Linked DNA regions of Homo sapiens: region 1 is linked to region 2. The links come from fine-mapping of genetic effects on gene expression. A gene starts in region 2. The other region holds a variant in brackets. All regions are shown on one strand. Distances are between the middles of the regions.

Region 1 (5,360 bases), 37 kb before region 2:
GTCCTAGACCATCTGACCACCCCCACCCCCAGATCTTCCCTCATACACATTGTATTTCTTACAAATCAGCCCTGCCCCACTCTCGAATGCCCAGCCTTGAACAAAAGGCCTCTCTTCTAATCTAGTCACCTTCCCACTCTGAGGTAGGAGCTTGCCTCTGCCGGGTGGAGAGATGTGGGGGCACCAGTGTGATGCTGGGAGCCCCTCTTCCCGGCCCCTTCTCTCCTGCTTCTCCCCTGGGAAGCCCCTAGGGCTGGGAGGGCGCAGGGATGGGGAAGCCAGGTGCAGAGGCGAGTGGAATCGCGCAACAGCTTCTCCTGGAGAACTAATGAGGCAAAAAAGGCACCCGCAGAAGCGCTGAGCACAGCATCCTGCCCCAGCCACAAGCTTGATGCCCGCCTGCCCGTGGGACCGAGCTGGGCTCCATGGTTTTCATTCCTGCCTGAGGGCCTAGCCAGGCACCTGGCCACACGCACCTTTGTGATGCTATTAATAATCCCTCTCCTGGTGCCACCCCCATGCAGTCTTAGCCTGGCCCGGGCCAGTGGGGCAGACCCACTTCTGGGCCCTGAGGCTGCTGACTGGCCCAGTAAAAGTGGGCACATATTCCTACATGGGGGTTCAGGGTAGGAGCATGCACCTAAGTCTGGAACACATGTTTCTGCCCATCCCACACTTTCTCCAACCAGCTGCAATATCCACTAACTCTGTCCCCCATTCAGGACTGAGGGGAGACGAGCTGGCTGTATCACTGCCCTAGATGGCATCACCTATGGGTGAGCATGCACACTGCCAGCACTCCAGGGCCGGGGTTCAGCCATGGGGCAGGGCTTCACCAATGCCCTATGTCCAGTATCCACCTCTTCCCTGGGCATAGCAGAGTGGAATAAAGGACACTCCAGGCTCTGAATTACATAGGATCTGCAGAGCCAGCCCAGGGTGCTCCCCTGGGAGCCATCACCCCCTTTCCACCCTCCAGGGTTGAGTCTCAGCCACTTGTCCTCAAAGGGCATTGCTGCCAGCCCCCCACCCACCCCCACCCCCAGCAGGACCTACCTGAAGGATGGGAGGATACTGTCATAGTAGTACCAGGTGGCTGTCAGGTAGGCCCGGCTCATATCGGTGGAGTACAGGCGCCAGGCAGCCTGGTGGTATGGGGGACGTGGGGGATGGGGCATCAGTGAGGCCTCTCAGTCCCCACCAGCCCTCTCCCCTGAAAGAACCCAGTCCTTGGTCCAGTTGTGGGTTACCCAGAGCCAGAGGCCAGTTCCAATTCCACAGCCACTGACAGGGGCAGCCAAGAAAGTAAGGCCTAGGGAGAAACGACTTCCCCGAGGGGACAAAGCAGATCAATGTCAGAGCCAGGGGCCATAGAGCATAGAGGTTAAGAGCTGGAGTTTTGTTGTCAGGCAGACATGGGTTTCCAATCCCAGCTCTGCCCCTTATTAGTGAGGACAAATTAAGTAAAGCTTCAGGACCTCAGTTTCTTCACCTGTAAAACGCATGTAACACTACTTGCCTACCAGGGTGTTGTGAGGATTAAATGAACAGTTGTATATTAAATGCCAAGCTCAGTGCCTGGTATATAGTAGGCACTTCATGCCAGGTTCCTCTGTTAAACACTCCTGTTATTCCCCTTATCACATTTGATGAATACCTATTCATTGTGTATTTGACTGATAACTTTCTCTCCCCCTAGACTGCAAGCTGTGTCTTTGTTACCGCTGCATTCTCAGTGCAAATATAGTGTCTGGCACATGTGGGTGCTTTGCAAATGTTTGCAGAATGTCATTATTATTACTAGCAATGCCACTCCATCTTTCCCAGCTGCCTGTCACTGCCCATGGGAATACTAAGGACTGAGAGGGGAGGAAAAGCATTACCTACCAACCCCTCAGCATCCATGGGCTTGCCGAGCTTCCTCTGCAGCAGGAGGGATGAAAGTCAGACAGGAGGAGAGACTGTCCCTCTCCCTCCACGTAGGAAGAGCCAGGGAGGGACTGTGAGTGTGGCCATCAGTGAGAGCAGGGAGGCATGGAGGCTGCTAGGCAGGACAAGGCAGAGCTGGGCCCTGGACGCCTCCCTTCTTTGGATGCCTCTTGTCCTTAAGGGGCTGCCACTGCTGACCTCACCAGCCAGGCACCCTCCTAAGACAGGAATATTTTTACTTCCTGCTTGCCTAGGCCCCTGGCATGGGCTGGGGAGCAGCTGCCAGAGCTGTCTCATTAATTATGGGCACCACAATAC[T/C]AGCTGTCTCTTGGCATGGACAGTGCCAGCCGCCTGCCCCTACAATGCCCCTCAGAAGGCCAGCTCCCAGGGGACAGTGGCCATTGTGCCCCAAGGGACGCTAAGAAGAAAAGGCTGAGCTGGTGGCTGGAGATAACAGCGACAGGGAGGAGGGTTCTACCCTGGGGAGGAGAGATAAGGAAGGGCTGAGTGAGGCTTGGGTTTGGGGCTCAGAGGGTGACAGGCTAGGGAGCAGGCAGAGGTGGACTGGGCCAGTATTCCCTGAAGCATTTCCTGCAAGGAGTTCCCTTACACACACCCCTGACTAGAAAAAGCCAAGGCCTAGTCCCAGGGTCACAGAAAATCAGAGCCCTGGCCTCAGCCCACACACAGTCACAACACGCCATGGCACAGAGGGAAACTGAGACCACACACTCCTGGCTTCCTACCCACCCCTCTGGCTGTTCCTTCTGTCTCCTTGCCCAGCTCAACTTTGCAGGCCCACCCACCTGCTAAATGTTGAGATTCCTAAAAGCCCTGTCTGCACCATCCTCTCTTCATTTGTGTGAGTGCTTGTGGAATGAATGAATGAATGAAGGTGCTGGAAGTGGGGCAGGCTTACTGCTGCACAGCTGATGGGGGCAGCAGTGGGTCTCCACCAGAGGCCTCCCAGCTCCTGTCTGGGCTCCGCCCCTCCCCAGGCCCTGTGAAGTTGGGCTGGAGTTGGGCAATAGGGCAGTTCTGGCTAGCCCTAAACCAGGCATTTGGTGCAGGGGGAAGTTTCTGGCACTGTCAGTGAGCATCCTGGCTCTGTGTGTGACTTGGCATGTGGCTCCAGGAAAGTCACATAGCCCTTTTGAGCTTCAAAGTGGTGTCACAGTTGGGCTGGGGACATGGGTCAGCACACAGGGTTGACACACCAGTGCAGTCACACGGCCCTGCTCCTAGGGCTTCTTCCCGGGCATCTTGTACCTGGATGAGGTTGGCTGCCGGCATCCTCCGCTTCTCGAAGTGCTTCTGCCGGTGCTGCTCCTGGACCTTCAGGGCAAAGCCGGAGCCTAGGATGCCCTAGAGGGATAGGGCATGGTTGGGGGAATGTGCTGGCAGTGGTGGGGCAGTAAGAGGCTGCAAGGGTGTCCCCATCCTTGCCCCTCTGAGGTACCCCAGGCTCCCCAGGCAAATGTGTGACAGGGGTGAGCAGGTCCCACCCTCAGCCTCCCCCACCAACTGAGCAGGAGGCAACTCACGGCAGGCAGGGCAAAGAAAGAGATGCCCAGTAAGGCGAAGCCAGCAGCCAGGACCCTGCCCAGCCATGTGTGCGGTGTCTTGTCACCATAGCCGATGGTTGTCAATGTAATCTGGAGACACAAACAGGTTACAGGCAGGACTGGTCACGGGGGCCACCTACGGCTTGTTGGGGGTACAGGCAGGTAGGAGCCTGATCATGAGGGAAGGGGCCCCTGGTCACCCACGGGGGCTGGTTAGGGTCATAGATGGATTCTCCCTCTCCTGGGCTGGTCAGGGGAAAGGGGTATAGTCACAAGGTCTTGATGTGCGGGGCTAGCTGGGGACAGAGGCAGGTCCACCAGAGCAGGTTGGGGGGTTAGCATTGGGGCTGGTCTCAGGGGGGTCCCAGCTCTAGTGAGAGGGCAGGGGCAGGCCCGCTCAACCCTGAGTCAGGAGTCACGATGGGCAGACCTCGGGAAGTTCCCAGGGAGGATCCCAGGGAGAAGGGCAGCCCTACAAAGACCCTCACGCACCGTCCCCCACCAGAGCGAGTCGGCGTAGGAGGAGAAGTCGGAGTTGGCGTCCTTCTCAGCCAGGTAGACCAGGAAGGAGGCGAAGATGAGCACCAGGAACCCGATGTACCAGGCGGTGATCAGCTCCTGCGGGGCAGGCGGAGGGGCGCGGTGAGGAGCGCTGTGCCTGCCTGGGAGATGTGGGGGGCTTCCACACGGGAAAGGGATAAAGGTCCCCCATCTCCCGGAGTCCCAGGCTCGCTTTTCTTTCTCAGCTCCTCCCATCACGGCGACCCTGCCCCGGCCTTCGCGAAACCGCCAGCACTCCCCCTACCCCGACCCCCATTCCCACCCCCACCCTCACCCCGCCTGCCTTGAGTCTCCAGGTTCCAGGCTCAGGACTCCAGCACCCGGCCTACCTTGCCCCGTCCCCCAAGTCCCACTTTCAGGCTTCCACCTGGGGCCCACCCTAGCCCCGCTCCAGCCCCACCCTCAAGTCCCACCTCAGCTGCCCACTTTGTGGTACGAGTGGTCCCTTCAAACCCAGAAGCATCCAGGGGAAACCCTCAAGCCCCGCCTCTCCGGCCCCGCCCCCTGATCCGGTCCGGACTCCTAGGCCCGCCCCTACCTAATTCAGAATCCACTTCGCCCCACCCGCTTAGACCTCGCCTCCTGCTAGGGCTCCAACCCCCGCAGGCCACACCCCTTCCCAGCACGGAGACAGCCCCTCTGACCTCGCCCTCTCCGCCCTGCCCGCTCTGGTCGTGCCCCAGACACGCCCTCGGGTCTCCGCGCGCGGCTTGCAGGCCTCACCTTGCTATGCGCGTAGACCACTGAGCCCAGCAGCTTCCAGGTGCCGCCGCGGCGGTCCATGCGCACCATGCGCAGGATCTGCAGGAAGCGCATGCTGCGCAGCGCGGACGTGGCGAAGATGTTGCCCTGGGTACCCGCGGCGATGACGGCCACCGAGGCCACGAACACGATGAAGTCTGCAGGGGCGGGGGCGGCGAGATCACAGCCAGCCTACCCCGCGCACGGACCCGGAGGCGGGGACTTCTGGGGATGTGGCAGGGGACTGGGGAGGGAGGGGGAGGGTCCGCTGAATCTGTGCGGGTCTCCAGGGTCAGAGTCGGGATTGGGAGTAAAGGCGTCACCCTGGCTCCTGGGGTCAGGGGTCAGGTCGGGCGGGGCGCGCCTCATTACCGATGACACAGAAGGGCTTTCTGGCAAAGCGGAAGCGACCCTGCCATCCTCGGTAGCGGCAGCAGCATCCGGCGGACCAGACCCGGACGATGTACTCCAAGCCGAAAACCACGATCATCACGAATTCCTGTGGGACCAGGGGCCTGAGTTCTGGTCCTCAGTCTCCAGAACTGGGGCCCAGGTCACAGCGCG
Region 2 (5,360 bases):
CACTCCTAAGAAGTAGTCCCCATCCCCTCACCCCCAACTCCACCAGCCCTGGGCCTTCCTCACTCCAACGGGCCTCTTTATAGCCACAAATATTCATCCTAGGCCTCCCAATGGACACTAAGGACTGGGCTACTACAAACCGTTGACCCTGAACCGAAGCTTGACCTCATGTCCTGAGCAATTTCAACTCTCTGCCCCAGCCTAGCCCAGCTGAGGTCTCTGCACAGAGTCAAGGTTGCCACCCCCAACGCACTTAATGGCCGAGAGAGCCCTGCTGTCTTCCCCCCCTGCCCCTCCCTGTGCCGCATCTTTCTCCCCTTCACCTCTGAAATTATGTGGGCCCAGTTCAGATGGGGCAGAGGCAGGCCAGCAAGCACCCGAGAAACAGGCCGAAGGACAGACCCAGAGACAGGTGGAAAAGACAGGTAGAGGAAGAGTGGACAGTCAGGTGGACAGGTGGATAGGCAGATGCACAGACAGGCACCCGGATAACTGCACAGGCCACAGATGGATGGAAACAGGCAAGCAGAAGGACTGCGGACAGTTAGGTGGAAGGGTGAGCAGACTGGCCAACTCGCACACAGGTGGAAACTCAGGCTGGCAGAGGGACAGCCAGGCCAGCAGGAGGGCTGCTAGACAGTCAGGTGGGCAGGCAGGTGGGCCACCCAGGAGACCCCAGCGCCAAAGGGCCCTCTCTGGTGGCAGCAAAAAGGGATTAATAGCCACACATTTTCCAGGGACCAGAGGTCTCTCTCTGGGCACCTCTGAGCGTCCCAGCGTCAGGCCCAGCCCTTCAACTGATATCTGCGGGGCCTCTCATGTTCCTGGCTGGGCCAGGCCGTACCCCAAGACTGAGCTCTGAGCTGCCAAAATTCACTCTTCACACCCAAGAGGGGTCAGTGTTTTTGAAAGTTGTAGGAGCCTGGTGAGAGGGAGGAGGGGGCCCCAGCAGCGTCAGTGTTTCCAAACCTACCCCTCTCCTCTTTCTTTTTCCCCTGGTGCCTAGAGCCAGGCCTGGTGCTGCCAGCCAACAAGGCAGGCGAGCTGGGCCAAGCCGGCAGGGTAGGGCAGGGCAGGCAGGGCGGCCGCCGTTGCCACTGGGAAGTTGAGGGTGGAGGGGAAGACTGAGCGAAGACACAGATCAAGTCGGACACAGCATATGCGAGTGTCAGGGCCCAGGGGGCCCACAGGGACCCCCACACACCCACAGTCAGCTGGGCAGGGGTAGGAATGAGGGCCGCCCTGGAGAGGAGCACCCCTGAGGGGAGCCCTTCATAGCTCAGAGCTGGGGAGCAGGTGACAGAAGCGTGTGGGAGCCAAGGGTTCCTCTTTGTGTCTGGGACACAGGGAGGCAGGGGTGGGGAAGAGGAAAAGGGCGCCCACTCCAGGGGCCCCAGACTTCGCCAAGCGGACTTGGGGGAGGCAGCTGGCGGTCGGGAGTACCTGGGACAGAGGAGCAGAGATTGGCGGTCAGGATGGAAATAAGCAGTTGCGGTGCGGGGAGGTCAGAAGCGAGGTCAAGCAGGGGTCAGGCCTGGGAGATCAGGGCTTAGGGTCGGGCTCAGCGAGGGGATCAGAAACCGGGCTTAGGCCTGGGGGGAGAGAGATGAGGGTCGGCCCTGAGGCAGGGGGGTAGAAGGCGGAGCCAGGGCGGGGCGGCCGTGCCCCGGGAGGCCAGGCTTGCGCGGGGAAACGCGGAAGGGCGCGGGGTCGCAAACTCACATGAAGACGTGGTAGACGAAGGCCCAGCCGCGGGGCCGCTCCAGCACGTTGTAGACCCAGTTCTGCAGGCGGCGGTAGCGCTTGTGCGCGGCCGAGGAGCGCTGGCCGCAGGCGGAGCCCGAGCCGGAGCCCGGCCCAGGGAGGGGCGCGCCCGGCGGCAGGGGGCTGCCCAGGAGGCCGAGGCGGCGCGGGGAGCCGCCCCCGCCCGCCTCGCCCTGTTCGCTCTGCACGGCCGTGAGCGCCACTAGCTCCGCGCGGGGGGCGTCCCCGGGCGGGGGACCCAGGCCGAGGCGGCGCGGGGGGGCCTCGGCCATGGGCGGCGCCGGGCTGGGGGCGCCGGGGCCCGGGCACGGTCCGGGGCGGGGGCGCGCTCGGGGCGCTCAGAGACGCATGGCTCGGACCCGGGGCCAGAGGGGCGACCCGGGGCGGGCGCGGGCGGCGGGGGCTAGGGGCCGGGCCGGGGCCGCGGGCGGGCGCTCGGAGCCTGGGGGCCGCCGGAGCCCGCACTGACCTCCCGCTTCCCCGGCGACTGGGGCTGCTCTTTCCGACTCCAACTCTCTTATTACGCGCTCCATGCCGCTCGCCTTTCCACCTGCCACCGGCGCGCGCCGCTCACATGTCACCCTCCCCCGCCCCGCCCCTCCCCCGCCCGCCCCGCGGCCGCCTTCCCAAATCGGGAGGGAGCGAGCGAGCAAGCGAGGCGAGGCGGAGGGAGGGAACGCGCGGAGCAGGCGGCGGGGCAGGGCGCACGGGCGGCCGAGTTGGTGCCTGGGCCGAACCGCGTGGCGGGGGCAGCGCGCGGGGCCGGGAAGCCGGACGCGTGCAAGTGGTGTCCACCGCTGCGTGGGGCAGTGTGGCCCCGAAGGCCAGCCCGGGGTGGGACGCCTCGTGTGTGCTTGTGGAAAGTGGAATGTGGAGTTGTGGCCGCGGGCGGCAGGGGAAGGGACGCAGTGTCCCGTGGAGTTTAGGTGTAGACCGGTGGAACGGCGTCTACTTGTGTGTGCAGGGTGGGTGGCTGTGGGTCTACCAGGTGCGGGGATGGAGTCAGTGAGGTGTGAGTTATGGGTCGGGTGTGGGTGGCTGCGAAAGTGGAGGTGGAGTCCGAAGGGGATGAGGTGTGTCCGTTGGGGTCGAGCACTGTGTGCCTGGTGCGGGTGCTTAAAGTGTGCCCAGTGCTGTGTGTGGCTGGGTGGGCAGCGGCGGTTGTCCTGCTCTTACCTGAAAGGCCTGGAGCCCACGGGCTGCTAGGCAGCATCAGGGTGTGTGGAACACAGTGGGCCTGGGTGTGTCTTTCTCCCACCAACTGCCACCTCTGAGCTTCCCTTCATCGTGATGGGGGAAGAGCCACCCTGCCCAGAAGAGGATCCTCCCCGATGGAGGGGCCTGCTCCCCTGCCCCACTCCCAGGTCAGGGAACTGGGTTTGGGCAGATGGAGTGTTGGGAGATGAGCTCTAAGCCAGCCTTAGAGGGGACACACACCCCCTACCCAAGGCCCACAGAATCCCAGCCAGAAAAGGGGATACTTTGTCCCAGGGCATTCCCTCTCCAGCTGGAAAGTTTTTCTTAGTCCCCGACCTCCATCTCTCTGGCTGTAGGGGGCAGTCCCTCTCCTTTAGCCCTCCTGGGCCCTGCACAGGGTTGGTAACTTGGGTTTCCCGATCCTCTTTCCCTCTTCCTCCACGGAAAGCTGCGGCCACACCAGCCGCTCCCTCCGCAGGCCCTGCCCCAGGGTGAGCCTTCCGCAGCAAACTCTTCCCGGTTCCTCCGGGAGGATCTCGAGGGACGAAGCCGAGCGGGAGGGGCGGGGGAAGGGGCGGGAAGGCGAGCTCGATTCTCAGCTGTCAGCAAAGGCAGCATTGATCTGCTGAGCGCCAGTGAGGGAGGGAGGGAGGCAGGGCCGTGGGCTGCAGGGATCTGTGGGGTCCCTAAACTGGGCTTGGCAACCGGCCCACACCCCTACCCCATAGTGATCCTTTCCCCTCTGCCTAGCTGGGGGTGCCCTCTGGGGTCTGACCTGAATCTCTTCTGCTGCTCCTGGTCCAGGTGTGCCCAGGGCCAGAGCCGGGTGCCCCAGGGCAGGTTATGCCCGGATCCTCTACTGGAAGCTGGGGACAGTTTCTGGACCCCAAGGCCCCACTAGGGATGTGGTGCCTGGGCTGAGTTAACCCATCTTCTCTCTATGAGCTGAAGATGGCACCCCCAAAATATGCAGCACTGTCCTCCCTCTGTGGAACTGCCTGGCTGGTTCTTCTCAATCATAGATCCTGGGAAATGGGACTAAGGTCTAGGACATGAAAGGTGCACAGGAAAGCAGTTGCAAGCGCCCTGGGGGTGTTTCTAGGGGGTCTTTTTGAGGCTCTTGTTCTGTAGCAGAAATGGAATTTGAATTCAGGTTGCCCTTAACACCCAGAATATCTGAAACTGGGTCTGTTCTGGGAAATCTAATCTTCAAGCTCAGCATCACCTCTGGATCCCATGGCTCTCTTCCCAGCTGGGGGACTACAAAGGTCCCTTCCCCACCTTGTGAGGAGCCCTCACTGCAGGGAGTGTCTCATCATTCCCAACTCCAGCTCCAGATTACCTGCTCAAAGGCAGCAGAAAGAGGAAAGAGACTGTGGTTGCAGCTAGAGGGATGGAAGTTAGATCTCAGGAAGGACTTTCATAGGGCATAGAAGCCTGTTTCTCCTGCGGGCGTATGGGTAATGGAGGGACACAGAACTCTTCCTAAGGGGTGAGAGGGATGGGGGAGATGGTTCCAGGAGGCCACAGCAAATTTACTTGGCATATGTGTACACATGGAAGAGTGGAAGGGCCAGAAGAGAAAGTCCAGTTCAGAGAGGACAGGTGGCCACTCTTAGGGTCACCGGGTGGCCTTCCTGCGCCATCCGGATTCCCAGGACATGACTGGGAGGACGGACTTTCCCCACCACAACCTTTAGTGACTAAGACACTTTTCTGAGCAAACAGCTGTCTCAGGCTCCCTCAATTGGCCCCTCTGCTGGAGGGGACTGGACACCGTGGTTCCCTACCCTCCTCCTTCCCTCTCCCACCTGTTCCCCTGACCCCACCCTCAGCAGTTTCCTTTCCACCCCCAGGCCCTGTCTCCACCCTGGTAACACTGCGAAAGCTTCCCTGCCCCACTGAGGAGACAGACGCACTCACTAAGACTCACTCCCACCTGGGCAAGTCTCTTCCCCACCCTGGACTTGTTTCCCCATCTGTGCAAGAAGTGGGCAGGGCTCCAAGATCTTCTGTAATTCATCACTGTCCCCATCAGCCATCAATGGAGCAAGTATTGACTGAGAGGAAGGGTGGGAGGGCGAGTGCTTCCATTTGCTGAGTGCCATCTGTGTGCCAGGCCCAGTCCCTTTTGGGCCAGAGAGCAGCAGCTTGCTTGAGACAGCTGAGGCTCTGAGAGGCACAGGGACTCACCTAAGTCTACACAGCCTATTGGTGACCCCCAGAACTGTGACCTGTGCTTTCCACTGACTGGCACCTGCCGGCTGGGCACTGGGTGCTGGGAGCTGAGGATAACCATACACGGCCAATCCTTGTTCTCTAGAACTTACTCGTGCCAAGGGATCAAACTTCCAGGTCTGAAAGGATGGAGGGCAGGAAGTGGCTAGGACTATGGTCTC

Which allele goes with the higher level. Positions count from the first base shown, and alleles are read on the strand shown. Sizes are in standard deviations (SD) of each study's normalised expression.
For the expression in spinal cord of the gene that starts at base 2,343 in region 2, allele T in region 1 goes with a lower level than allele C (moderate effect, 0.71 SD a copy in GTEx).

The links.
Region 1: its variant is fine-mapped to the expression of KCNQ4 in spinal cord (GTEx, PIP above 0.99).

What each region holds. Positions count from the first base shown.
Region 1 is chr1:40,818,099-40,823,458 of GRCh38, reverse strand. KCNQ4 (potassium voltage-gated channel subfamily Q member 4) reads right to left here. Exons shown (of 14, transcript NM_004700.4): 3 at 5,169-5,295; 4 at 4,779-4,954; 5 at 3,987-4,112; 6 at 3,474-3,584; 7 at 3,199-3,294; 8 at 1,057-1,145. Among named protein-coding and RNA genes, the nearest start is that of KCNQ4, 37 kb to the right of the region's middle. RefSeq lists cis regulatory regions at 2,367-2,384, 2,409-2,426, enhancers at 2,303-2,447, 2,345-2,489, 2,201-2,702, 4,907-4,956 and a silencer at 4,527-4,586. The variant T/C (reference allele first, on the strand shown) is at 2,248.
Region 2 is chr1:40,780,770-40,786,129 of GRCh38, reverse strand. KCNQ4 (potassium voltage-gated channel subfamily Q member 4) reads right to left here and starts at 2,343. Exons shown (of 14, transcript NM_004700.4): 1 at 1,723-2,343. The coding sequence starts at 2,036.